Regions from separate parts of the Homo sapiens genome. Here all the other regions are linked to region 1. Evidence: fine-mapped QTL for protein levels in blood plasma. A gene starts in region 1. Each other region holds a variant in brackets. All regions are shown on one strand. Distances are from middle to middle.

Region 1 (8,175 bases):
CGTTCAGTGTCTCCCTGGGTGCCTGTTCATGTGGTTTCTTAGGAGCTTTTGCAACAGCATCTTACTGTTTACAAATGGAATATCTCATGCCAAAGCAAGTGTCCCAAAGGTCAAATTGAAAATGAAACCACAGAGTGGAGGCAATAGTGAGGAGAGGAATTAAGTTGCAAGAGGGACCCATGAACTAAGAATAAGGCTTATCAAAAGATGCCAAATGTACAGGGTATGGGAGTAAGAACAAACATGCTGAAAATTAAATATGAAATGGGTAATTATGTAGTAATGAGATTGAGGACATCACAAAGGACACTGCCATTTAAACTATCACATCTCAACACAGTAATGAACGAGAAAAACCCTCCAGCTTTGTAATTATAATGATAGTTGCCATAACAACTTAGTATCTCTCTCCCTGTGCATCCATCTCAAGACTATATTTTTAGTAATGGCTGTGCCTGAGTATGTATTTTTCTTTATATAGCAGCTAATTTTTCAAATTAATGATCTTTCAAAAAATTCCATTTTCATTCTCTCTGAAAGTGTAAGAGTCTCAGGGATAATTAGGGAAATGAGCAGGTGTGAAAAGTCCGTAATGAAAAATGCTATAAAAATATTGATGTCTTGACAATATTTGTTTCAACAGAATGTTCTCTAGACCTGCACACTCTATTGTTCCTTGCCAAGCAGCTTAACATAAATCTCCTTTGTGGGGCTCATAAATATTTGAAAAATTATTAGCCGTGTAAGGTGTTTGAGGATTATCAGACAAGTATGGATTTATGTTGTATAACAGAAACTGGCTTAGCAGAATCCTGTCTAAGGGATGAATGAATGGACAAACATGGGCTTATTTTGCTTAGCAGAAGTGCACTTAGCAGATTCTCAATTGAGGCAAACAATGGTTGACTTTAAAGAACACCATTTGAAGAACTCAGAAACTGGGGGGGATTCTGAACTGCCACTTTGGTTTCCCAGTTTGCCCCCATTACTACCCCCGACTGGTGTGTCTGGTTTATAGCACGGCTGACATCCAGGGAGAATCAGTGCTTTCTGGAGTTCTACTTACACTACGCGGAGAGACTCACAGCCCCTCCTGAGGGTTCCAGTCCTGAGTTAAACAGACAAATTATTAGATTGAGAACAAAAAAGTCCTAGAGAGAAACATTCTTTGGCTGATGCCGTGAAAGACTCTAGGCAAGATTAGTTATGCAGAAGGAGTTATTGAAATTTTCTGTGTTTCTTATATTCTGTTGGTTTCTGTGGAAGATGCAAAGTTAGCATATTATAATAATCACAGAGCTTATCAGTGCTGTGCAGGAGGCCATTAAGAGTCTGTCTTGGCCGGGCATGGTGGCTCACGCCTGTAATCCCAGCACTTTGGGAGGCCAAGGCGGGTGGATCACCTGAGGTCAGAAGTTCGAGACCAGCCTGACCAACATGGTGAAACCCTGTCTGTATGAAAAATATAAAAATTAGCTGGGTGTGGTGGTAGGCACCTGTAATCCCAGCTACTTGGGAGGCTGTGGCAGGAGAACTGCTTGAAGCCAGGAGACAGAGGTTGCCGTGAGCCGACATGGTGCCACTGCACTCAAGCCAGGGTGACAAAGTGAGACTCTGTCAAAAAAAAAAAAAAAAAAAAAAGAAAAAAAAGAAAAAAAAAAGAATCTGTCTTATGGTTGTTGCCCAGTGGCAAGTGGAAAGAGCCAAGTTTGAGTGAGCTGGTGAGCCTTGAACCTTACCTAGAGGGGTTAGGTTTACTTGGGATTGGTTAGCCCTGCAGATTCTTCGGTCGGGGAGCAAGGTTGTTAACGGGTGTTTAGGGAGAATGAATGGCTTGTTGCCTTGAAGGAAGAGTGGACGGCAGATCAGAGAGGCCCAAACAGCGAGACCTGCTGAGCACGGATTCCCATCATCTGCCATGGGTCTCTGAACCATGGGCTGAGTGATGGGCAGTGGGAACAGAGGAAGAGGCAGATTAAAGAATGTGTGCCATGAGAGCAGCAGGACTTACTGCTATGTATTAGAAGGTGAAGGAGAGATGGGGCCAAGATGACCAGGGAGGTCTTCATCTGAGAAGCTGAAGAACGCAGGACCCTCCCAGGCAGATAGGTGAGAGTTGGGAGAAAGAATAAGGCTTGCAAACCAAGAGAATGAGGTCAGCTTTGCCGCCCTATCTTCCTAAACTTCATGAGCTCTGACTGTGCCTTGCACCTTTCCAGGACGGGCAGCACCAGAGAGAGGGAGCCAGAGGTAGACAAAGGAGGCTCCAGGAACAGTGCCGTGGGCTTCTGTGTTGGGAGAACTGGCATCAGTGCAATCGATTCTTGTTCTATTTGTCCTACTTGCTTTAATTATGTGTCTCTCCAGGGAAAACAAACAAGCAAGCATTGATAGGGAGAGCAGTAATAAGTGGGACTCATTTCTTTATTCCAGGGACATGTTGAGAGGCATGTTTGGGTAGGGCCTTCTCTGGACACTTACCAGACACTGCAGAGCGGGTATATGTTATGTTACTCACCTAAGAGGTGCTGAAAAGCGGTAAAGTGTCTTCAGGACTCATGGGCTTGGGGCCATTGGGATGTATATGGCCTGACTTTAAATATTGGTTAAAGGCAGCAGAGCAGGGTTAGTCCTGGCCATCACTAGCTTGCTGTGTGTCCTCAGGTAAATCTGGGCCTCAGGATCCTGTGTAAAATGAGAGGGAGAAGATTCATCTTAAATTTGGATGCTATCAGAATTACCTGAGGAACTTCTTAGATATGCTAGTACTTGAACCCACTCTTTAGGAGATTCTGAAGGTCTGGGGTGCCGCCTGGGTGTCGGTCTGCTGTTGAGCAAGCTCTGGGGGTTCTGATGGAGGTGGTGCAGGGCACCGTCCTGGCCTGGGCTGCCTCTGCAGTCCCTCTGGCCAGGATGCCAGGCCAGCCTCTTGTTAGCGCTTCACACAGCTCGCTGGAACGCTGGGTGTGTTGCTTGCTGCTGGAGCCGCTTTCTGTTTCACCACTAAAGACTGTGTTGTCGTCTGGAGTGCCTGGCTTCAGATAAAACAGTCCCCAGGAGTGAGCCCTGGGGATAGGCCATGGAGGAGGGTGGGTGGGGATCCAGGAAGGGTTGGGGAGCAAAGAGTGGTGGGTGGGGAAGGGGACCCTCCTGCCCTCTCACCCTGAGGACTTCTGCTGGCTCTGGATTCCAGAGCGTCCTGGGGGTTTGACAGGCAGGACCAAGGCCTCCTGGTCCCTGCAGACAGGCCCTGCCTCAACCAGCAGCCTCCTCCTCTCCCTCTGGTCATTCTGCTTTGGCCTTCAAACTGGAAGCCTGGAAGACTGGCCCTAAAAGATGGCCTGGTGGAGTGGCCTGCGCAGAAAGAGAATGACAACCTTCCTGGTCCAAGCCCTGCCCACTGTGGGGTCTCAGGAGCCCCCACTCTAGGGAAGTCCTCACTCCAGGGCAATGGTGAGGCCTTGCCCTGGTGCCCTGACTCAGCTCAGTGGCATCGTAGGATCACATCACAGACCCAGAGGAACTGGGAAGGTGACAGGCCAATGCAGGCTTGAGGGTCAGTCTGTCCCTGTAGCGCACTCCATGGGTTCCCAAAGACATCTACACCTGAATACCTAGAACAAGAGATAGTTACGGAACCTGGCAAAAAGTTAGGGAACATGGCAAAATGGACTTTGCCGATGTGGTTAAGGTCACCACTCAAGATAGGATGACTATACTGAATTTTTTGGGTGGGCCCATCTATTCACACTCTCTTAAAAGCACAGAATTTTCTCTAGCTGGAAGGCGGAAAGATGTGGCAGGAAGGGAAGCGATTTGAAGCTGTGCCAGCTCTGGCTCTGAGATGCCGGGCCCACGTGCGAGGACCAGGGAGAGGCCTGGAGGAGCCTGCAGAAGACATGAGGAGGAACACAGGCAGCCAGCAGGAGGAAAGGCGCCTCAGCCCACAGCCAGCGAGTGAACTGCACGTCAGTCCTACTACCGCAAGGAGCTGAATTCAGCCAATACCTGAGTGAGCCCGGAAGTGGACTTTTCGCCAGAGGCTCCCCTAAGAAACCAGTCCTGCTGACCCCTTGATTTTGGCCTGGTGACACTCGCATCAGCCTTCTCACCTGCAGAGCTGTGAGATAGGTGTTGTTTGAAGCCACTAAGTTTGTCATCGTTTGTTACAGCAGCAAGGGAAACGATGCAGTCCCTGGTTCCCCACATCCCCGCCTGGAGAGCAGAAGCCGCAGGGCCATGGGCCTGGGCTCCGCATAAAGAACCCATGCAGAGTTGTCCAAAGCAGGAGGCCCTTTCTCAAAGGACCCTCTGGGCAAGAGCCTGCTCTTGGATGAACCACAAACCCTCTTGTGACCCCTGGATGGCCACCTTGGGGTAACGTCACTGTCTTTCCCAAGACCCAACAGAATCACAGTCTCAGATGGGAGAGGGCTCCTCCAGGGTCCCTAGGCCCTGCTCCCAGGGAACTTTACTCCCAGAAACCCCGGGAACCTCAGGAATTCCTCATTCCCAGTTCCTGAAACAGTAGCATGGCTAGTGGGAAGTCCACGTCTGCGGAATGGTCAGCACACGGGGCACGGTTTGAGAGCTGGAGGCTGCTTGGGCTCTGATTTACTTTAGGACCCTGGGCCAATCTTTTCTTCTCTCAGGTCACGTTTCTCCACCTGTAAAACAGGAATGGAACAGCGGGCCTCAGTGTTTTCTTCTAAGATTGAAACTCATTAGCGTCTCTGGGGAAGCAGGCCCCACGCTGGCTGGCCTGCGGGGGAGGGGAAGGGGGCTTTCTTGGGCTTGGCTGCTTGGAACACCTGCCTCCAAGGACCGGCCTCGGAGGGGTCGCCGGGAAAGGGAGGGAAGAAGGAAGGGCGGGGCCGGCCCCCCTGCGCCCGCCCCGCGCCTCTGCGCGCCCCTGTCCGCCCCGGCCCAGCCCAGCCCAGCCCCGCGGGCCGGTCACACGCGCAGCCAGCCGGCCGCCTCCCGCGCCCAAGCGCGCCGCTCTGCTGTGCCCTGCGCCCTTGCCCCGCGCCAGCTTCTGCGCCCGCAGCCCGCCCGGCGCCCCCGGTGACCGTGACCCTGCCCTGGGCGCGGGGCGGAGCAGGCATGTCCCGCCCGGGGACCGCTACCCCAGCGCTGGCCCTGGTGCTCCTGGCAGTGACCCTGGCCGGGGTCGGAGCCCAGGGCGCAGCCCTCGAGGACCCTGATTATTACGGGCAGGAGATCTGGAGCCGGGAGCCCTACTACGCGCGCCCGGAGCCCGAGCTCGAGACCTTCTCTCCGCCGCTGCCTGCGGGGCCCGGGGAGGAGTGGGAGCGGCGCCCGCAGGAGCCCAGGCCGCCCAAGAGGGCCACCAAGCCCAAGAAAGCTCCCAAGAGGGAGAAGTCGGCTCCGGAGCCGCCTCCACCAGGTAAGGAACTTTCTGCGCTGGGCAGCCCGAGGGGGCGCCGGTGGTTGCGCGCCTCCAGGGGACAACTGGCTTCTCCCATTGTGTGTGTCTGGGATGGGCCAGTCCCGGGAATCTCCCTGTTGCCGCCTCTGCCTCCCTAGGGACTGTATCTGCGCTTCCTGCCGGCCCGCCCAGCTTCCCAGAACTTGTCCTTGACCCTGACATGCATTTCAGCTCTGGCTTATGCCCTTAGGTAAAGAGGGAGCTGTGCAATTGGGAGGCTGCCTATGAGAGTCAAAGTTCTTGTTTCAAGCTTGAAATCCCCTGAGCTAAGGGTCTTTCTGCTGGATGCCTCTTACTTCTCTGCCTACTTCTTCAATCCTCAAATGCGGCTGAATTTCCGCTTTGGGGATGTGGATGGCTGGCTGTTTTGGCAGATGGCCTTCTAGGGAAAGCTCTGCCAGTAGGCCTTTACCCAGTCGTGTCCCTTCTCAGCTCCCTCCTTCCCACTCTCAGCGGGTCTCTTGGGTCCTCTGCCCGGCTGGGGCAGGATGGCACAGCCTCCACTGGGGAGTCTGTGCCTGGAGTCTGCTGCAGCCTGGACTCCGGCTTGGGGGCTCCCTGGCTGCCTGCAGTGCTCCGTCTTTCATCCAAGTCTCATACCCTTCTCAAATCCATCTTCAGTTTCTGCCAACCTCATTTTCTTAGGAAAATGACTTCCACTAAATGACGTAGTTTATTAACCACCTTGTGAAGTGGGGCTTTCTCTAGTTCCAAATGTTCTTTGCTTAAATTGCAGGGGCTGCAGGCCTGGTATTTCAAGAGTGGGGCATGAGCAGGAATGTGGCCAAATTCTCTGGCCTCGCAATGGCCTTTCCTGAAAGGAGATACGTGCGGGTGCCACCGTTACAGGGCTCCGGGTATGGAAGGCATCGTCTTTGTTTGGTTAAACTGCTCACGAAAGTCAGCAGCCAGGGCAGTGGGAAAGTGGAGGAGGGGTGAGGACACAGAACTCCTGAAAGGGTGGACCTATATGAGCACCCCCCTTTGCAGAGGCCCTGGCATGCTTCCATTTGTGGACAACTTTGAATGGGCGGAGATTTCTGAGTTGTGTGACAACCCTGAACACATCCAGAATTTCCAGTGTTTCAGGGAGAGTTATGGGAATTCAGATGTTTAAGAGCTACAGTGGCTTAATAACAGGATTAGGAGTGGGAAGAGACTTATATTTGTAGAATGTCGACTGTGACTCCATTAGAAACTTTATGTGCCAGTTTCATTTCATCCTTTCAGTGGCTCCGAAGGGTGGGTGAGGCTCAGACAGTTTAAGTAACTTGCTCAGCGTCACTTGCTGGCTTGGGATATTTGAAAGCCTTTCTTCTGTCCTTTTTAACTCAAGGCCTTTTTGGTTTGGTAGTTTGAATCAAATCCACATGCATTCTAGTTTTTTTTTAAGTGCCTGCAATGTGCTTAGCTCCGTCCTGGGCATGGTAGGGTGGTGTAGGCAGGAGACATGTATGTTGGGTTCTGGCAGTCACTGGGGGTAGTGCTAAGGGGGAAAGTGGAAGAGAGCCCCAGACTGGGAGTCTGAAGACTGGGCCTAACACCCATGTTTAGGGCTCATCAACTTGGGGATCTGGAATCATGGCTCAGTTTCCTGAGCTTTAACTTCATCATCGTTTGCAAATAGGAAGACTGCACCTGCCACCTCACTTTACTTTGTCAATTGCTGTAAAAACCTTTTTAATGAAAGCTTCCAGTGTGCCTGCCCGCTTATGTGCTGGTCTTCCTGTGAACCTTTCATTCATTCCACAGGCCGTTACCAAGAACCTGCTAAGCACTGGTGCTGGGTGAGATCCTAGGAATGGGGAGAGCAAGACGTTCCTCTTCCCTGCCCCCCAGCCCCCGCCCCCCACCACATGGAACTAGCTGGGAACTCTGAGAAAGTAATCACAGTTGTGTTAAGGGTTGCACAAAAGTGTGGGGTGTTAAGGTAACAAACAAGCTGGGGGAGCTCACTGAATCTGTGGGGGCTTGCGTAATGCTTCCCCGAAGAGGTGATGTTTAAGACTTGACAAGTAAGTCAGCTTGATTGTCCTGGGGACTCGTACAAGTGACCGGACATCATTCCTAAGATAGGTTTCTTTCCCTACAAAACACATCTCAGAAAGTCACAGCCTGGCCTGAGCAGTGTCCACAGACTAATGTGTCTGCAGACTCAGGGGTTACATGGGGAAGTGACTCTCTTTAGTCCTTGGAGAAACAGCTCTTGCCACTCTTGGAATGGGGTCTCTGGAGGAGAAATCAGAGTGTAACCTGAATTTGCAAGAAAAAGCTCATTTGGTTTTGGAAGGCCATCTTGCAGGTAGAGACAGGCCATGGGGGAGCCTGTTGATTCGGTGCCTAGCCTCTGCTCCTGCAGGACACATTGCCCAGTTCACCGCAGCCCTGGCATCCACCGGGATCTCCAAGCCCCATACTGAAAACACGTCTTCGGAAGATCTAGAGACTCACATCAGAGGCCTGTTGGGACAGCTGCCTGCAGACCTGCTACCATGTCAGCTGTGTTTCTAATGAATTCTGTGGGGCTTTTTTAGAGCTCTCCCCAACCATGACAAGACAAGTGTGACATTTATCTCATATTTTTAACTCCTGTCCTTTTTTATTTTGGTGTTTGCTCAGCAGAATCCTCTGCCCTGGACCAAAGTGGGAAGACTGGTTTAAGCGTGAACTTAGTTAGGGGAATCAGTGACAGTTTTGTGCAGTTAAACTACACTAGGAGAAAATTA
Region 2 (8,175 bases), 38 kb after region 1:
CACAGGCTGGGATGCTGGTGCTGGTCGCTCTGCTGACCAGCCATGTGGCCTCGGGTGAGATGCCCTCATTCTCCAAGGCTCAGTGTCGTCATCAGGAAGGTGCAGGTCCCACCGCTGGCTCTTCCTCCGTCATGGAATTGTGAGTGTCAAAAGGAGTAAAGAAAAAGAATTGCCTTTGGCAGTTCTCAAATGCATATTCTTACCTATTAGCATTCATTCTTGCAGCAGACCATTGTGAGGTGCCTGCTATGTGACAGGCATGGAAAGGGCCATGACAAAAAGCCCTAGGGATTCTCTGCCTTCAAGATGCTTCAGTCTTTAGCAGAGGGAGAGTGGGAATCAGCTCCAAGCATTATTGGCACAGTGCTAAGTGCCTTATGCACGTGATTTCATTTATTCCTCCAACATGGAAGACAGTACTGTTATTATTACCTCTGCCTTATAGAAAAACAGACACAGGGAGCATGGGATGACTCAGCTCACATTTCCCAGGAGGGGCAGATTAAGAATCCAGGCAGCTTTAAACCTTGAGTTGTTGCTCCTAATGATGCCATAAAATTGCCTCCCAAGTCAACAGATAGAAGTGGTATAGGTCCAACAGCTGGACTAGTGATCAAACCGTGTACATCTCTCTTTTCTGACAGTTATCTCACATTGATTTATTCATCTGCACCCTCGCCAAATGCTGAGCCGCTTGCAGAAAATGTGTCTCTTGCATTTCTGGGTATTCCCCACCCTGTGTGAGCGCGGTGTCTGCACATATGGATGCGCTGAATCAACAAAGCTTCTGTGTAGTGGCTGCAGTGCTTAAGGGAGCTTAAGCAGGAGAAGCCTAGGAGGCGGCCGGGCAGGCTGGTCTGCTGTCACATGTGTTTTTCTAGTGCATATTTGCCCTGTGTGGTTGGCAGATACAGGGATGATGTCATTATGACACAGAAGCAGCATTGGTTCATGTGTGACTTTTGCTAGTCTGTGAATGGTCTGTGGGGCCGAGCACCAGCACCTGGCCACAGAGTGCACTGTCACGGGTGAATATGGAGTCTATCAGTGGTCTGTGGGACCAAGTATCAGCACCTGGCCACAGAGTGCACTGTCACGGGTGAGTGTAAAGTCTATGAATGGGCTGTGGGACCAAGTATCAGCACCTGACCACAGAGTGCGCTGTCACGGGTGAGTGTGGAGTCTATGAATAGTCTGTGGGACCCAGCACCAGCACCTGACCACAGAGTGCACTGTCAGGGGCGAGCGTGGAAGCTGCGGAGTCCCGTGCGTGGTGCCCTGTGCCTCCTGTTCCTCGGCGTCAGTGGGGCCTGTGCTGGTGCATTGCTCAGGTTCTTCTCCGTTTTGCCCTAGCCTTCAACTCAGCAGCTCCACGCCGCCTTCCATCTCCACGCCGCCTTCCATCTCCACGCCGCCTTCCATCTCCACGCCGCCTTCCATCTCCACGCCGCCTTCCATCTCCACGCCGCCTTCCATCTCCACGCCGCCTTCCATCTCCACGCCGCCTTCCATCGCTGGCATCACCTGCCTCCCTGCTTGTTTCCTTTTCAGATCAAATCCTATAATTACAGCTGTATTTAAACACTGTTTTGAGCAACTCAACGTGTCTCCTTAATTGTGCTAATGTGTTTTTAAAATTAATTTTTTTCAGTCTTCTGCTTCTAGACCTGTATAGATTTTGAATGGGCTGGCTGGTGAGCTGGGTTTTAGACTGGGAACTTTTACTGGAATACATTTGCCGTGTTACTACAGAAATACCTGTCTCCTTTTCCATCATTTTAAGCAGAAGACTTTGAAAGAGTCCTTATAACTCAATACTTCCTTTTTTTCAAGTAGAATTTTACTTTTGTTAACTTAATAATATAAGGTTAGAGAAAAAAACCAACATTTACATTTTATCACTACATTGGGACAAAATAGACTTTTCAGGAATTCAAGGAAGACATCCAGTTCAGCAGGAGAGCAAAAGTTCGGCCCCTCACCTATGATTATTCTTCCTGTGCGCCCAGGACCCCTTTATACTAACTCACTTGTGAGGCTGTGATCTCATTTAGAAACAGTCACTGGTTTCTTCCATTCTGGGAGCAACTACGGACAGATTGGAAATTAACATTCTGAGTCTCCAAGAGAACATATTGACAATGACCTCTAAAATCATGCTTAGGGCTAGGTGCGGTGGCTCATGCCTGTAACCCCAGCACTTTGGGAGGCCGAGGCGGGTGGATCACCTGAGGTCAGGAATTCAAGACCAGCCTGGCCAATGTGGCAAAATCCCGTCTCTACTAAACATACAAAAATTAGCCGGGCGTGGTGGCACACGCCTGTAATCCCAGCTACTTGGGAGGTTGAGGCAGGAGAATCACTTGAACCTGGGAGGCTGAGGTTGCAGTGAGCCATGATCATGCCACTGCACTCCAGCCTGGGCGAGAGGATGAGACTCTGTCTCAAAAAAAAACAAAAAAAAGCCAAACCAAACCAAAACAAAACATGCTTGGATCCTTTGCCTGTAGGTAGTCTTAGGAAGTGACCCTATGTTCAGGTGGGTCATCTAATGGCAGCTCATCACCTGCCCCACCCCAAAGAATCCTCCTTTGAGGACCCTAAGATATTTTCCCTGGGTCATAAACTAAGGAAGGGGGTTCGGGGACAGCAGCCCTGCTGAAGTGATTTATTGCACCACTGTTATTATTTTGGATATTTTC[C/T]TAGCTGGCAAGCCTCAAACAGATTGCAGTAGTAAGCACTGCCGTGTCAGAGGGCTGGCTTTCAACCTCATTCTCAAGAATTTAAATTACAGTAAGTCAGTCAGGGTCTGACGTGTGATCAGAAGAAATGAAACACCAAGTGTGTGGTTGGGACTCAGGATGTCACCACAATTCCTGCCTATAACTGGGGACCGACTTACATCCCTTATAAATGGGGATGTAGAAAAGTTGGTGCTTAGATCAGAGCTTGGAAGAAACAGCTGATGTTTTGAGGTCACAAGGAAAAACGTAGCACACTCCCTGCACAGCTCTGGGTGTCCTTGTGATAGCCTGGTCACGGTCGTTTGGCACTCTGTGGACCAGGTCTTGTCTCACCCATGTTAGAAATGACTGAGAGTTTGGTCCCCTAGAGAGAGAGGCTCACCTCTTGCAGCTCTTCCAGGAGGAAACGTCTGGCCATAATAATAGTGTCTGTCAGAGCCATTTCCCCAGCACTGCTGGAAGGAATCATGAGTCCTCTCCTCAGTCATTTCCTTAAAAAAATTATATGGAGCACCTCGATGCCAGTACTAGAATCTAGTTCCAGTGTTCTCATCCACTTTTTACCTAAAATGAGGTGGGATATTTGGAGGCGGCTGCTGCCTGTGGCTTCATTTGTACCCCCGCATGAAGACATGAATGCAGTTTTAGAACATTGAACCAACTGAGTTTTATCCTGTGTCACAGCTCATGTTCCAGGGCACGTCCTGTACGTGTCTCCCTGTACCTTTTGGCCCCAGTGCTCTTGGGGCCCCACTTTGACCAAAGGTGGAGGCCACCCACATTTCTCCTGGCAGGAAGTCTATGGAGAACCTTTGGCAGTACCATTTTCCCAGGTCTCACCTGTGCCCGACCCACACCTGCCTGTGGCTGGGCCCTGCACCCGTGTCTTTGACCCTAAGCCTATCTCTTCCTTCATGCCTTCCCGATTTTCTGTTTTGTTTGTTTTTGTTTTTCCTGGCTATGCAAAACCTTACTGTGTCTCACAAGTTCTTCTTGGGGGCCATATATGTGCTAAGTGCTGCAGAGGCAAAAATAATCACAGTAGACATAGTTTCCGAGTCAAGGAATGTCGTGTTTGTTCTGATAAAGGGATTTTGTTCTACATCTGGCTTCAAGCAAACAGTCTGGGAGACAGTGTTTGGATGCCAAAACACTGGAATTTTGGGTATTTGGATTTTTATGGGAATAACAGGACTGAATATTTTAAATTGTGACTCCCTTGGAGAAATCAAAATGAATATCTAGTATGATGGTAATATGCTGTTCTTATTTCTCAAGAAGCTTACAGTGTAGACATACAAGCCGGTAGAAGGACAATGTAACCAAAGTAAAAAGGGTCCAAAACCACCAAAGCCTCCTTGACCCATGAACCACAGATTATTAAGGAACCACAGGATTATCTGGTTCAGATATAGATTCTGTTCTGTTTGCTGTGTGCATTTTTCTTTAATATGTTATTAAATTTCATATGTTGTGTCCTTGAAGCACTAACACAGAATGACCTACACACCTGATTGCTGGGAGACGTGCACATCCAGAAGACGGTCATCCTACCTGTGTACAGTGAGGCAGGTGCCCTGGGGAACCATCCCCATGAGGTATCGCTGGAGAAGGCACAGTGCAGTTATGACTGCGGAGTAGACACACAGGCTCCGGGGGTTGTCTGTTGAACAAGCCGAGCCATCACTTGGGTGCTGGAGCTGGCAGGGAAGGAGCCCTGGGTTATCTACAGCCGGAAAACTGAGATTAGGGTCTCAGGTCTGTACTTAGTAGCTGTGGGGTTAGGGCAGGTCACTTAGCCCCTGACTTCAGTTTCCTTATCTCTAAAACAAATATATATAAAATATATATTATATATATTATATATAAAAGTATATTATATATATATTATATATTTTATATATAATATATATATAATATATATATTATATATATATTATATATATATATTTTTATATATATATATATATTTGTTCACTAGCTCTTGGGCCACCCCTGCCTCTCAGCTTGTGCTGCCTTATCTCCCTGACCACTGGCTTGAGTTTCCCCTAGGCTCTCCCACGCCCACATCCAGGAAGGGCCCAGAAAAGTCTGATCTGAGAGGCATCAGTAGTCACCCCCGGAGCCTGTGTGTGCGTTCAGCAGTCAGAGCTGCTTCTCCAGTGATGCCTCATGGGGATGGTTCCCCAGGGCACCTGCCCTGCTACACACAGGTCAGATGACCGTCTCCTGGAGGTGCATGGTTGGGAATCAGGTGTGTAGGTCATTCTGTGTTAGTGCTTCAAGGACACAATAAATGCTATATAAGCAGAAAAAGCCAGGGTGGGGAGAGGGAGGGGAGAAAAAAGGAGAGGAGGAGGGAAAGAAAGAATAACAGCAGATTCTTTCTTTCTTTCTTTCTTTTTTTGAGACTGAGCCTCGCTCTGTCGCCCAGGCTGGAGTGCAGTGGCACGATCTCTGCTCACTGCAACCTCCACCTCCCGGGTTCAAGTGATTCTTGCACCTCAGCCTCCTGAGTAGCTGGGATTACAGGCACGTGCCACCATGCCCAGCTAATTTTTGTATGTTTAGTAGAGACAGGGTTTCACCATGTTGGCCGGGCTGGTCTCGAACTCCTGACCTCAAGTGGTCTGCCCGCCTTGGCCTCCCAAAGTGTTGGGATTACAGGCATGAGCCGCCACACCTGGCCAGATTCTTTCTTTTATTTATTCATTTTATTATAACAACAACACAAAAACACAACACACCTCTGGAAACCTTTCATGTACTCAGCACTGTCATAAGAACTGAGGAAACAATGCTGAGCAAAAACAGAAGAGCCCTGAGCACTTAGCAAATATTTACTGGGGGCCTATGATGTGCTGGGTCGTGTTCTAGGTGCTGAGGATGCCTAAATGACCAAAACAAGGATTCTTGCCACCTTGAAGCTTGTGTTCTAGTGCGGGAGGCAAATCAAGGCAGATGTATTAGTCCATTCTCTCACTGCTATAAAGAAACGGCTGAGACTGGATAATTCATTAAGAAAAGAGGTTTCATTGGCTCACGGTTCTGTAGGCTGTACAGGAAACATTGTGGCTTCTGCTTCTGGGAGGCCTCAGGAAACTTACAGTCATGGCGGAAAGTGAAGGGGAGGCAGGCACTGCTTACATGCCCCTAGCAGGAGCAAAAGACTGGGGAGGTGCCACACACATTTAAACAACTAGATCTCATGAGAACTCACTCATTATCAAACACAGTTCTAAGGGGGAGATCCACCCCCATGATCTAATCACCTCCCACCAGGCCCCATCTCCAACACTGGGAATTACAATTTGACGTGAGATTTGGGCAGGGACACAGATCCAAACTACATCAGCAGGAAATGTAACAAATCATAGTGTTTACTATTATAGTATGTTAGAAGGTGGCACGTACTATGGAGAGAAGGGAAACAAAACCAGCGGACAGCTGGCAGTGGTAGTCATGGGGGCAGACTCTGGGAAGGTGGCAGCTGCTTTTCAAGAAGGGGATCAATGGGGAGCCAAGGGGGTATGAGAAGAGCATTCTGGGCAGAGGGGATGGCTTGAGCAAAGGTCAGGTATAGCATGCTCGGTATAGCCAAGGGGCAGCAGGAGGTTGGAGTGAGCATCAGGGGAGAAGACATGAGCCAGAGGTAATAGGAGGCCTGCAGGCCCCCTGGAAGGACTTCAGCTTTTAGCCGTGAGCCAATTAGGGGAGCCCTGGAAAGTTCTGGACACAGGAATGACATGCTGTGGCTTACATGTGAAACGGATCAACCTAGTCACTGTGTTGACTTTTGGGGAGCAAGCATTGAAGCAGAGGCCTGTCAAGGGCGGTGACTTCAGGCCCTAGACAGGAGATGGTACTGGCTTGAGCCAAGATAGGCGTGATGGAGGGGGGTTGGAAGTGGTTGGATTTAGGTTATTTTGAAAGTAGGATTTTCTGATGCAGGGCAGATGAGGTTTGGATGAAGGATGCAAGAGAATAGAAGGGAGTCGGGCATGCTTTTTAACCTGCAACTCTGATAATCTAGTAATCTAATGGGGAGATGAAATTACTGAAAAAAATCCCACCTGGGAATGCATAATTACAATGAGTCCTGGGAAGGAGAGGAGCAGGTGCATTCATTCCCTGGGACTGCCATGACAAAGTTGGGAGCCCAGATAGGGAAACTGAAGACAACAAACACTGATTCTCTCACAATTCTGGAGGCTTGAAATCTGAAATCAAGGTGTTAGCAGGGCATCGCTCCTTCCGAAGTCTCTAAGAAAGGGTCCCTCCTTGCCCTTTCCAGCGTCTGGTGGCCTCAGGCATTCTGTGGCATCCCTGGGCTGGTAGATGCATCACCCCAGTCTCTGCCTCCCTGGTACCTCAGGCTTCTTCCAGTGAGCCTCTACATCATCTGTCCTCTGCCTGTGTGTCTCTGTGTTCAGATATCCCCTTGTTTAAAGACACAGTCATGCTGGATATGCCCATCCTGCTCTAAGCTGACTGCATCTTAACTAAGTGCATCTGTCCCAGCCCCCTTTTTTTTTTTTTTTTTGAGATGATGTCTCGTTCTGTCACCCAGGCTGGAGTGTAGTGGCGTGATCTTGGCTCACTGCAACCTCCATCTCCCGGGTTCAAGCGATTCCCCTGCCTCAGCCTCCCGAGGAGCTGGGATTACAGGTGCGTGCCACCATGCCCGGCTAATTTTTTGTATTTTTAGTAGAGCTGGGGTTTCACTGTGTTAGCCAGAATGGTCTGGATCTCCTGATCTTGTGATCCGCCCGCCTTGGCCTCCCAAAGTGCTGGGATTACAGGCATGAGCCACCGTGCCTGGTCACCAGCCCTATTTCTAAATAAGGTCACATTCTGAGATTCCAAGAGTTAGGGCATGAGCCTATTTTGGAGAGGGGGAACACAATTCAATACTGTGGTTCTGTATGCCCAATATATCTGCCTCAGGCTGGAGCTTGGAGGACTTTCCTGAGGATGGAGTGAGTACTTGGGCTAATAAATGAAGAAGGATTATAAGTTGAGAGTTTATTGGACAAAGGGTAGGCAGAGGGAGAGAAGAGCATTCCAGGTCAAAGAGAAGAGTATGTGCAAAGGCCCTGTGGTGGTGGGGAACATGGTCTATTGGAAGGACTTAGGCAAAGCCAGTGTGACTGGAGCTACACTGTGGTTATGGAGCAATGTCATGGCCAATGGCCATGAGAAAAAGAGCTTTCCACCATTAGTCGTCAAGTAAATACAAATGAAAGCCGCAATGAGACAGGATGCACAGACACCAGAATGGCTTTGAAAAAAGGATAATATCAAGTGTGGACAAAGATGTAGGGCAATGGAAGCGTTCATAAAATGCTGGGAATGTAAAGTAGCACAGCCACTTGGAAACCTGTTTGGCAGTATAATAGTCTGTCTTTATCTGGGGGATATATTCGAAGAC
Region 3 (8,175 bases), 29 kb after region 1:
GTGGGAGCTGCTGGTTTCTGGTGACTTGTTTGCACTGTGCTCCCTTCGGTCTTTGCCAGCCCAGGGTGGGGCTGACAGAGGTCTCATCCACTTTTCAAGGCCTCTGAAGGCCTAGGAACTGCAGATGTTTTCAAATGTTTTACCCTAGCCCCTGTGGCTCTGAGGCCTCCAGACCATTCTGCAGGTTTAAGATTCCCCAGACCTCCTCTCTCTTACGTGGCTCGCATGCTTTGCAAGTGGTTTCCTCATCCTGCATAATTTTCTCCCCACTGTAGTATTGTTCCCCTTAGCAGGAGAACCCAAGGGGGAGGAGCAGGTCACTTTATTCATTTTGGACATTGAGTAGACCTGTCAAAAATCTCTAGGATGGGCCGGGCGCAGTGGCTCATGCCTGTAATCCCAGCACTTTGGGAGGCCAAGGCGGGCAGATCACCTGAGGTCAGGAGTTTGAGACCAGCTTGGCCAGCATCGTGAAACTCTGTCTCTACTAAAAATACAAAAATTAGCCGGGCATGGTTGCAGGCGCCTATAATCCCAGCTACTTGGGAGGCTGAAGCAGGAGAATTGCTTGAACCTGGGAGGTGGAGGTTGCGGTGAGCAAAATCGCACCATTGCACTGCAGCCTGGGTGACAAGAGTGAAACTCCTTCTCAAAAAAAAAAAAAAAAAAAAAAAGAAAGAAATCTCTAGGATGACGCTCTGAAGGTAGAAAGAAAAGAAGAAAAATGAATCAGGTTGAAATATTCTGAAATTCTTCAGAGTGAAATATTAAGCATGAGTATTTCAATATTATGTATTTCGAATTAATTTAGATCTTTAAAGCAAAAGATAATTTTCCTGTCTTTTATTTTCTAGCCCCTTACTTTCTCATTCTTTAGCATAGGAAAATCCTGCCTTTTTCTAAATGTGGAGATTCCTGTGTCAGATGTTCAATATGTCTTTAAGATGGGCTTGGGAACTTTTCCTGGGATGCTTGATTCTGACATGGGATTTTTGCCTTGTTGATCTTTGCATAAAGGGATGTGGGATAGTGGGCTTGTGCTTAGACTACTTTATGCTTAAACTTCTTTTTAACTTAAAAAATGTTTTAAAATGGGATTTGGGGAAGGTGGGTAACTCCCAGCTGGCTCAGTGTGTAGTTTTATCTGAGCCTGCAGGATGCCTACTGCGGGGCATGGCGCCGTGTGTTAGGCTGGGTTGCAGTAGCATTTGTGAATTGCCCTGATGCTCATGGAAAATAGGGTGAAGTCAGAGTGAGGCAGACGTGGGATGGAAGGAAGGAGAGGAGGCTATCAAAGGGAAAAATAAAGAATGGAAGATTGATTAAATAAGAACTTTCCAAGTGAAGCTGACTTTACTGCTGTGTGCCTGACTGATACTGCAGCCTCTGCCACACAAAAGTGAGGGGACAGAGTGCCGAGGAAGAAGTGGTGACAAGCTTGAGGAGATTCTTTTGCAGCAGACATTGGAAGATGATTGGGTATTTGCTTCAGCTGCAGATTGCAGGCGGATTACTCCAGCTGCAGCGTTCACACCTGCCTGATGGGGGCCTCCAGGGTTCTGAGGCCTGCCTGCCACGTCAACAGGCCAGTCTCCAGACAAGCAAGTCGTCTGAGTTTAAACTTTTTTTTTTTTTTTGAGACAGTGTCTCACTGTGTAGCCCAGGCTGGAGTGCAGTGGCACGATCTCGGCTCACTGCAACCTCCGCCTCCCAGGTTTAAGCGATTCTCCTGCCTCGCCGTCCCGAGTAGCTGGGATTACAGCGTGTACCACCACACCTGGCTGATTTTTTGTATTTTTTAGTAGAGATGGGGTTTCACCATATCGGCCAGGCTGGTCTCGAAATCCTGACCTCAATTGATCCACCTGCCTCGGCCTCCCAAAGTGCTGGGATTACAGGCGTGAGCCACCGCACCCGGTCCTGAATTTAAACTTTGTGCGTGTGATTGGACGCTGAGTGGCATAGACGGTGCCTGTGACACCTCATAGCTGAAGTGTGGGCTCAGAAGGTGGATTGTTAAAGGGAAGGGGAGGGGCTCTCTTAGGGAATCAGTCTGAGGGTGATGAGCCCGTGCTGCAGCCAGGAAAGACTGCCCTGGGGAAGGTGGAAAGAAAAGTCCAAACAAGGAAGGAAGGTCTGGACCGAGAGGGAAGAGAAAGAGCAGAACATTGTGTGATGGAAACCAGGGCTGTGTGTGGTGTGGGGGTGGAGGAGTGGCTGAGAGGGAGAAATTGTGGGGCCCAGTACAGAAAAACGGAGAAGAGGCTGAGGAGTCCCAAAGGGCCACAAAGTGACCAGGGCCACTGTGAATGAATGGAGTCAGGAGCAAAAATCCCAGGAAAGGAAGGGAGAGAAGAAGCAGAGATGGAGGTGTTGCCCCTCCTGGGGTTGGCCAGGAGGAGGCAGTTGGAAGAACCCATAACTCAGAAGCTGGGCGAGCCTGCCTGAGCTGTGTTCACCCTCAGCTCTGGGCAGTAGCTGCAGGTGCCCGTCCCGTGCCCCATGTCGGTTGTGAATTTGGCGTCCCCTTGTTTTGCTAACAGCACCCTGATCCCAGTGGGCAGCCAGGGGACCAGGTGAGTCAGGCCCTCTCTGGAGGCATGCGTGAGGTTGAGTGGAAACTCAGAGGTGTGATAGGAGGTGGACAGTGTCATTGGAATCCACTGTTCTGCTTCCTAGATGACGGGAGCTCTGTGCCTTTCCACCTGCACGTGTCCTGTGTCCCGCCTCTGTCCTTCTCACTTTCTGCCATCCCTCTCATTTCTCTAGGGATTTCCCTTCCTGTCTAAGTTGGCTGTGGTAGGTTTCTTAAAACCAAAGGGCCCTCACTAACCCAGGCGGATCAGTAACTCTGTCTTTGCCTTTCAAGGACATTGTGTTTTCTCTGTGTGGAATCTCTAGCTTCTTTGTAAGTGGCACGGGCAATGGAGAAGGCTTCCAAACCAAAATTAATGGCTCTAAAAATAGCATCTTCTAATAAGGACAAAAAATCCCAGTGTCAGAGCATTGGGTTCCTGTAAGACTACGTTTGCGAGCAGGCCAAGTTCGTGTGTGTTTATCTGGGCTCCCCCACCAAAGTCATCATCTGTGCTGTGGGTGGAGGGGGTGAAGTTTCTGGCTTTGCCGTGACACCATCACAGGAGTGGACAAGAATGGCTGTTAGATGTGGCAGCTGCCAGCACTGCTGGCGGCGGGAAACTCAGCCCGTGAGAGGGCAGGCATTGCACTTTTCAGTTGCTATTAGACGTGCACCCATGAAACACCTCACTTGGGGGCACTTTCTTTTCACCCCTTATGTATCTTGGCAAGAGGATGTGACAGAGCTTCTGTCTGTCGACAGAAAAGCAATTTTGATGGATATGTAATTTTAGTCAGGTACTTCCTTTTTTGAATTAAAATACTCACGTGCATAGGAGTCGTGCTCTTTTTCTGGAAGAAATGTTTTGAATAGCAATTATTGTTGCTTTATTGAGCTGGTACATGATCTATATATGTCTGCCTGTCCATCTGGTGGGCTATCTGTCCATCTGTCCGTCTCTCACTTAGAGTGTATAAATGATATAAATAAAGGTGGCTTTGCTGAAGGAAGTCCATGGAATTTACCTCCTGCTGTGTCTTCTGCTACCAAGGAAGAAGCTGGTGGTTGGAAGGCCTTCAACACGGCAGTGAAATAGGTTCATAAGATGGCAGCAGATCCTTTTGGTGTTTCTGATGCTTGGTTATGTGGGACTGTTGTGGGTATGTATTGAGTACCAGGACATGGAGGGACAGGACCTGTGCCTGGTTCCCCATCAGGGTCTGAAACCCCCCAGGTCCCTTGAACCCTGAAACCACAGCTGGCAGAGTGAAGATAAATAGAGGCTATTCCCAGGCCACCAGGAATCGCCTGACAGAACCTGCTGCCTAGCCAGCTTGGTGTCACAGTCAGTGGGTGGGGTCTCTCTCTCAGTGGGTGGGGTCTCTCGGTGGGCGGGATCTCTCAGGACAGACCGGTTATTCCTGAGAATGCTGACTGTGTCTAAGGCAGGATAGGCTGAGACCAGGTGATGGGGAGAAGAGCAAGGAGTGAGCAGGAGACGAGGATGAGAATGGGGCACAGCAGGGCAGCAACCCCAGCTTAGGGAGCCCAAGAGCTTCAGCCAGAGCCCAGGCTCCTGGGGCCAGGCTGCAGGATGTCCTGGAGTCAAGCCTCTCCAAAGGGACAGGCAGCCTAATGGGTCAGTGGCCTTGACTCTCAGAGCTTGCCCTGGATTCTGACAAGGCCCTCTGGTGGATACCAGTGACCGCTGGGGACTGTGAGCTCCAAGAGGCGAATGGCATCCGACAGCAGGGGCCCATTGTCCTGAGGTGAGAGTGAAGGGCACGGGCCCAGGCTCCCAGCTGTCTCAGAGAGTGACGGGGTGTGGGATTATAACCTGGGCTCAGGGGCCAAGCTGCGGAGGTGCCAGACCACGAGAGTGGCAGGGTGGGGCTTCTGGGACAGCATGAGAAGGTTCTATGAGGAGGCAGGGCTGTTGGAGGCCCAGCAGTGAGGATTTCTGAGTATGTCGTGTGAGGATTAACCCTGCTGGTCAGCCACTTGAGGTCCATTTCTGGTAGGCAGGATGGAGAGTGAACATGTGGGACCCAGGAACTGCCACCACATGGGTCAGATTCATGTCCTTCAGGCCTGGAAGGTGTGAGGGCAAACCCTGGGGAAGGAAGGGGGCATGGTAGCCAAGTTTTTCTCTGTGAGGTCAGCCTCGGGTGGTTGGCATGCCTGCTGCACAAACCCCCTCAATGCGGGGACCCCCGGTTCATCATGTGGCCCCCTCTCGCTGCATGGCCTTTCACACTCACTGTGTGCACCCCTCCGCCTTCACTAAATGCTCCACCACTCACTGTGGTGGGCGTGGGGGCAAACAGCAGCCCAGAGGTCAGGAGACCCCTTCTGGATGCTGCTTTAAGCATTGTCATTCTTACGGACAATGGGCTAGGCTGGGACGATCAAGCACTGGTGTTTTATTCCAGGGGCAAATGGTGTTTACTAGCTGTGCTCCATGTTATCCATTTTGCAGAGACTGGAAAACAATAGGTTTTTTTTCTGCTTATATTCCTCTGCTCATTAGCATGCACAATATAAAGGCCAGAGTTGCTGAAGCAAAATCCGCAAGTTCTGATTAATTTGCAGAGCTCCAATGATGCTTCCTGACTGAGTCATGTTGGGGAAGGATCCTTAATTGGGAACAGCCTCAGACAGTAGCATGGACAGCAAAAGAGAAGGAATATCAGAGCAAAAACACCCCTAAAGCAAATGCCAACAAGAAAGAACATTGGCTTAATGTTGACAGTTCAATCAACCGTGTCTGGAAAGACCAGGCATGCCTGTGGGTGGGAGTTCAGGGGAAAATGGAAAAGCACGCGGCCAGATTTAGAAAATAAGAAACTCATCCCTTTCAGCATCTGTCGTTGTTTTTAACAAGCATT[TG/G]TCCTTTCCAGGTTGCCCACCTCTTGGTCTGGAAACCTTAAAAATCACAGACTTCCAGCTCCATGCCTCCACGGTGAAGCGCTATGGCCTGGGGGCACATCGAGGGAGACTCAACATCCAGGTACCTGGCCCTGTGGTTGGAAGGATTTTGACTGCCTTGTTTATTGCTCTGGTTCCTTGAGCTTGGATCAGGCAATGCGCAGGATTTAAAATGCATTAGCCTGGATGCTCACAGTAAGAAAGGATATTGCTGAATGATCCTAATTTTACAGAGAGAGCTCTGAGACTCAGGGAGGCAATGTCTTCTCCAAAGACTGTCGTGAGTAAAAGTGAGACCACCAGTACCTGGACCCAGGTTGTTCCTCTTCCACCTTTTGAACACTTCTCTTCCATATGCTGTTGGTCCAGAAAGGACAGGAGGAGAAGGTGGAATGCCTGGGGCATGGCGGGGCAGAGCCGTGGCACACGAGGCAGTGGCATTTGTCTTCCCTTGCCTCCCTGCCAGTGCTTCTTGTCTCTGCCACACACACACCTTCCAGGCTTTCCTGTGGCTCCCTCCATTGTGTTCCCCCGGGTCAAGCCCTGCATGGCTCCTGGGACCATGCACATCCTGGCTGGTCTCCCTCCTGGAGGCTCAAGGGCCTTTCTGACCTTGGGCCTCAAGACTGTCAGGCCTCCCTCTCTGTCAGTCCCATCAGTCCGAGGTCTTGCTCCAGGAAGGTGAGCTCCTGCCTGCACACTCTACACGCCGTGCAATTCTTGACTCCAGGCCCTTTCTGTAGCAGGTTCCCCTGCCTGAAACTTCTACTGCCCAACCATGCTCCACTCACATGAATCCCATCTGATCCATGTATGAGTTTCCTATTGCTGCTGTGACAAACGTAGCCTCTTCCCACAAATGTATTCTCTTACAGTTCTGGAGGACAGACGTCTCCTTGGGCTAAATCAAGGTATGCAGGGCGATGCTCTTTCTGGAGACTGTAGGGAGAATCAATTTTCTTCCCCTTTTCAGTCTTGAGAAGCTGCCCCATTCCTTGCTAGTGGCTCTTTCCTTCTTCAGAGCCAGCAAAGGCAGATGGAGTCTTCATGTGACTGCCTGTCTGGTTCTCTGTTCTGATTTCTTGTTCCCCTTTTGAGGATCCTTGAGATTACACCGGGCCCACCTGGATAGCCTGGGATCATCTCCCTTCCTCAAGCAACCTTCATTCCATCTGTGACCCTCATTCCTCTCTGCTGTGTAATCTAATATATGCACAGGTTCTGCGGATTAGAGCGTGGACATCTTTGGGTAGGAGTTATTCTGCCGCCCCATCCCCAGGGCATTTTGTTCCTGCCCCACCTCCTGCTGATCTGTTCTTTCTCAACTTAGCACTTGATCTCTACCGTCCTGTGTGGCTCTCTAATGGCACCATATTCTAGTTTTCTTTCTATAGCTCTTCTGTATTGGGAGTAGTTTCCAAGCCCCTTTGCACGTGCACCATCTCTGGCCTAGGGAGGGAGGAGGTTCCTTGCCCCTGGCCCTGAGAGCCATCAAGGGTGCACTCAAAGCTAATGGCTTCCAAGTGGCAGAGTGGACCCCTGACTCCCCCAGCGGTCTGTGTAAATGTGCTAGGGGCAGCTGCTGTGCTGGGAACTGTGTACAAACAGATAAGGTTCCTTCCCAGGGAGCTCATGGGATTGGGGGCATCTGAGCCAAGCTCTGACTCCAAGCTTTGCTCTTTCTCCACCCCACCCCTCAGACTGCACCGCATCAAACAGACTTTCGAACTGCTTAACCTCCGCCACTTTTCAGTTCAGACGAATTCAGGTAGAACATTTGTAGAACTAACTTTAAGGAGATCCGAAGGTTGGTTTATAAATACTCGTATAAAAAAAGAATAATAACTAATAAGAAATATTTGGATGTGCACAACTGTCAACTGCAAACAATCTCTTATGTTTTATGAGGGATGAACACATGAGCCCGCAAAGCTTGAGCTGGAGCTATGTTCGTGTCCCCACAGTGCCTCCAGTACCCTAGACGGGGCTCCAGGCCTCTGAGGAAATGACAGTCAGATCCAAGCAGGGCGTGTGCAGCCTGTTTTGTGCATTAATTAGGGGAGCTGTCGTCTGATGCTTTGCATGATTTCTCTATAATTGAAATTATCCTTTGAAAAAGAGAAAGTGTTCACATTTATTTGTGCTTTCGGTCAAAAATTAAAAGGTCCTGTTAATCCTAAATGTGTTGGGGTTGAATGGGAAGGTCGGGGGAGCGTGGTGTTTTTGTCCCTCCAGTTGGGAATTCCACCGGCAGAGTGCCACGCAGGGTGTGCCAATGAGATGTTGTAGACAGGCATGCTGAGTGCAGACCTTGGCCTTGATGTTTCTAGATTGGGGGACTTTGGAACAAATGATCTCATGTCTCTGAGGCTCAGTTGCCTCATCAGAAAGATGAGAGTCCTAATCACTCACAGAGTTCCTTGAGTGGTGACCTTAGGTGACTTCTGATTTTAAAACATTCCCTGGATCATCTCCTTCCTCTGTTGAAAGGCTCTGGTGGCTTCTAGTTACTGTATGAGGAAAGTCCCAGGTTGGTCTTGGGTGACTGGGTCTCTCTCTGAACCTTCATTTACTTATTTCCTTGGGTTGTATCTGCCCCTTCCTTGTGAGTAAGCCCCATGTTAGATGTGGCCTTGTTTCTCCTGCTTGCCCAGCCCCTGGTGTGCAGA

Which allele goes with the higher level. Positions count from the first base shown, and alleles are read on the strand shown. Strength reflects both the effect of a copy and how common the allele is.
As copies of T replace C in region 2, the plasma level of the protein whose gene starts at base 4,956 in region 1 goes up (moderate association).
As copies of G replace TG in region 3, the plasma level of the protein whose gene starts at base 4,956 in region 1 goes down (moderate association).

Evidence for each region. PIP is the posterior inclusion probability: the model's chance that the variant is causal. The UK Biobank Pharma Proteomics Project read protein levels with antibody pairs (Olink). The fine-mapping took linkage between variants from a reference panel, not from the people measured, so its PIPs are less certain.
Region 2: its variant is fine-mapped to the plasma level of the CPXM2 protein (UK Biobank, PIP above 0.99).
Region 3: its variant is fine-mapped to the plasma level of the CPXM2 protein (UK Biobank, PIP above 0.99).

What each region holds. Positions count from the first base shown.
Region 1 is chr10:123,888,588-123,896,762 of GRCh38, reverse strand. CPXM2 (carboxypeptidase X, M14 family member 2) reads left to right here and starts at 4,956. Exons shown (of 14, transcript NM_198148.3): 1 at 4,956-5,407. The coding sequence starts at 5,104. LOC105378534 (a long non-coding RNA gene) reads right to left here and starts at 3,059. Exons shown (of 3, transcript XR_001747622.2): 1 at 2,780-3,059; 2 at 2,519-2,685.
Region 2 is chr10:123,850,881-123,859,055 of GRCh38, reverse strand. All of the region lies in intron 3 of CPXM2 (carboxypeptidase X, M14 family member 2), which reads left to right. Among named protein-coding and RNA genes, the nearest start is that of CPXM2, 37 kb to the left of the region's middle. The variant C/T (reference allele first, on the strand shown) is at 2,703.
Region 3 is chr10:123,860,027-123,868,201 of GRCh38, reverse strand. It overlaps CPXM2 (carboxypeptidase X, M14 family member 2), which reads left to right. Exons shown (of 14, transcript NM_198148.3): 3 at 5,479-5,588. Among named protein-coding and RNA genes, the nearest start is that of CPXM2, 28 kb to the left of the region's middle. RefSeq lists enhancers at 1,429-2,236, 3,783-4,524, 8,025-8,175. The variant TG/G (reference allele first, on the strand shown) is at 5,467.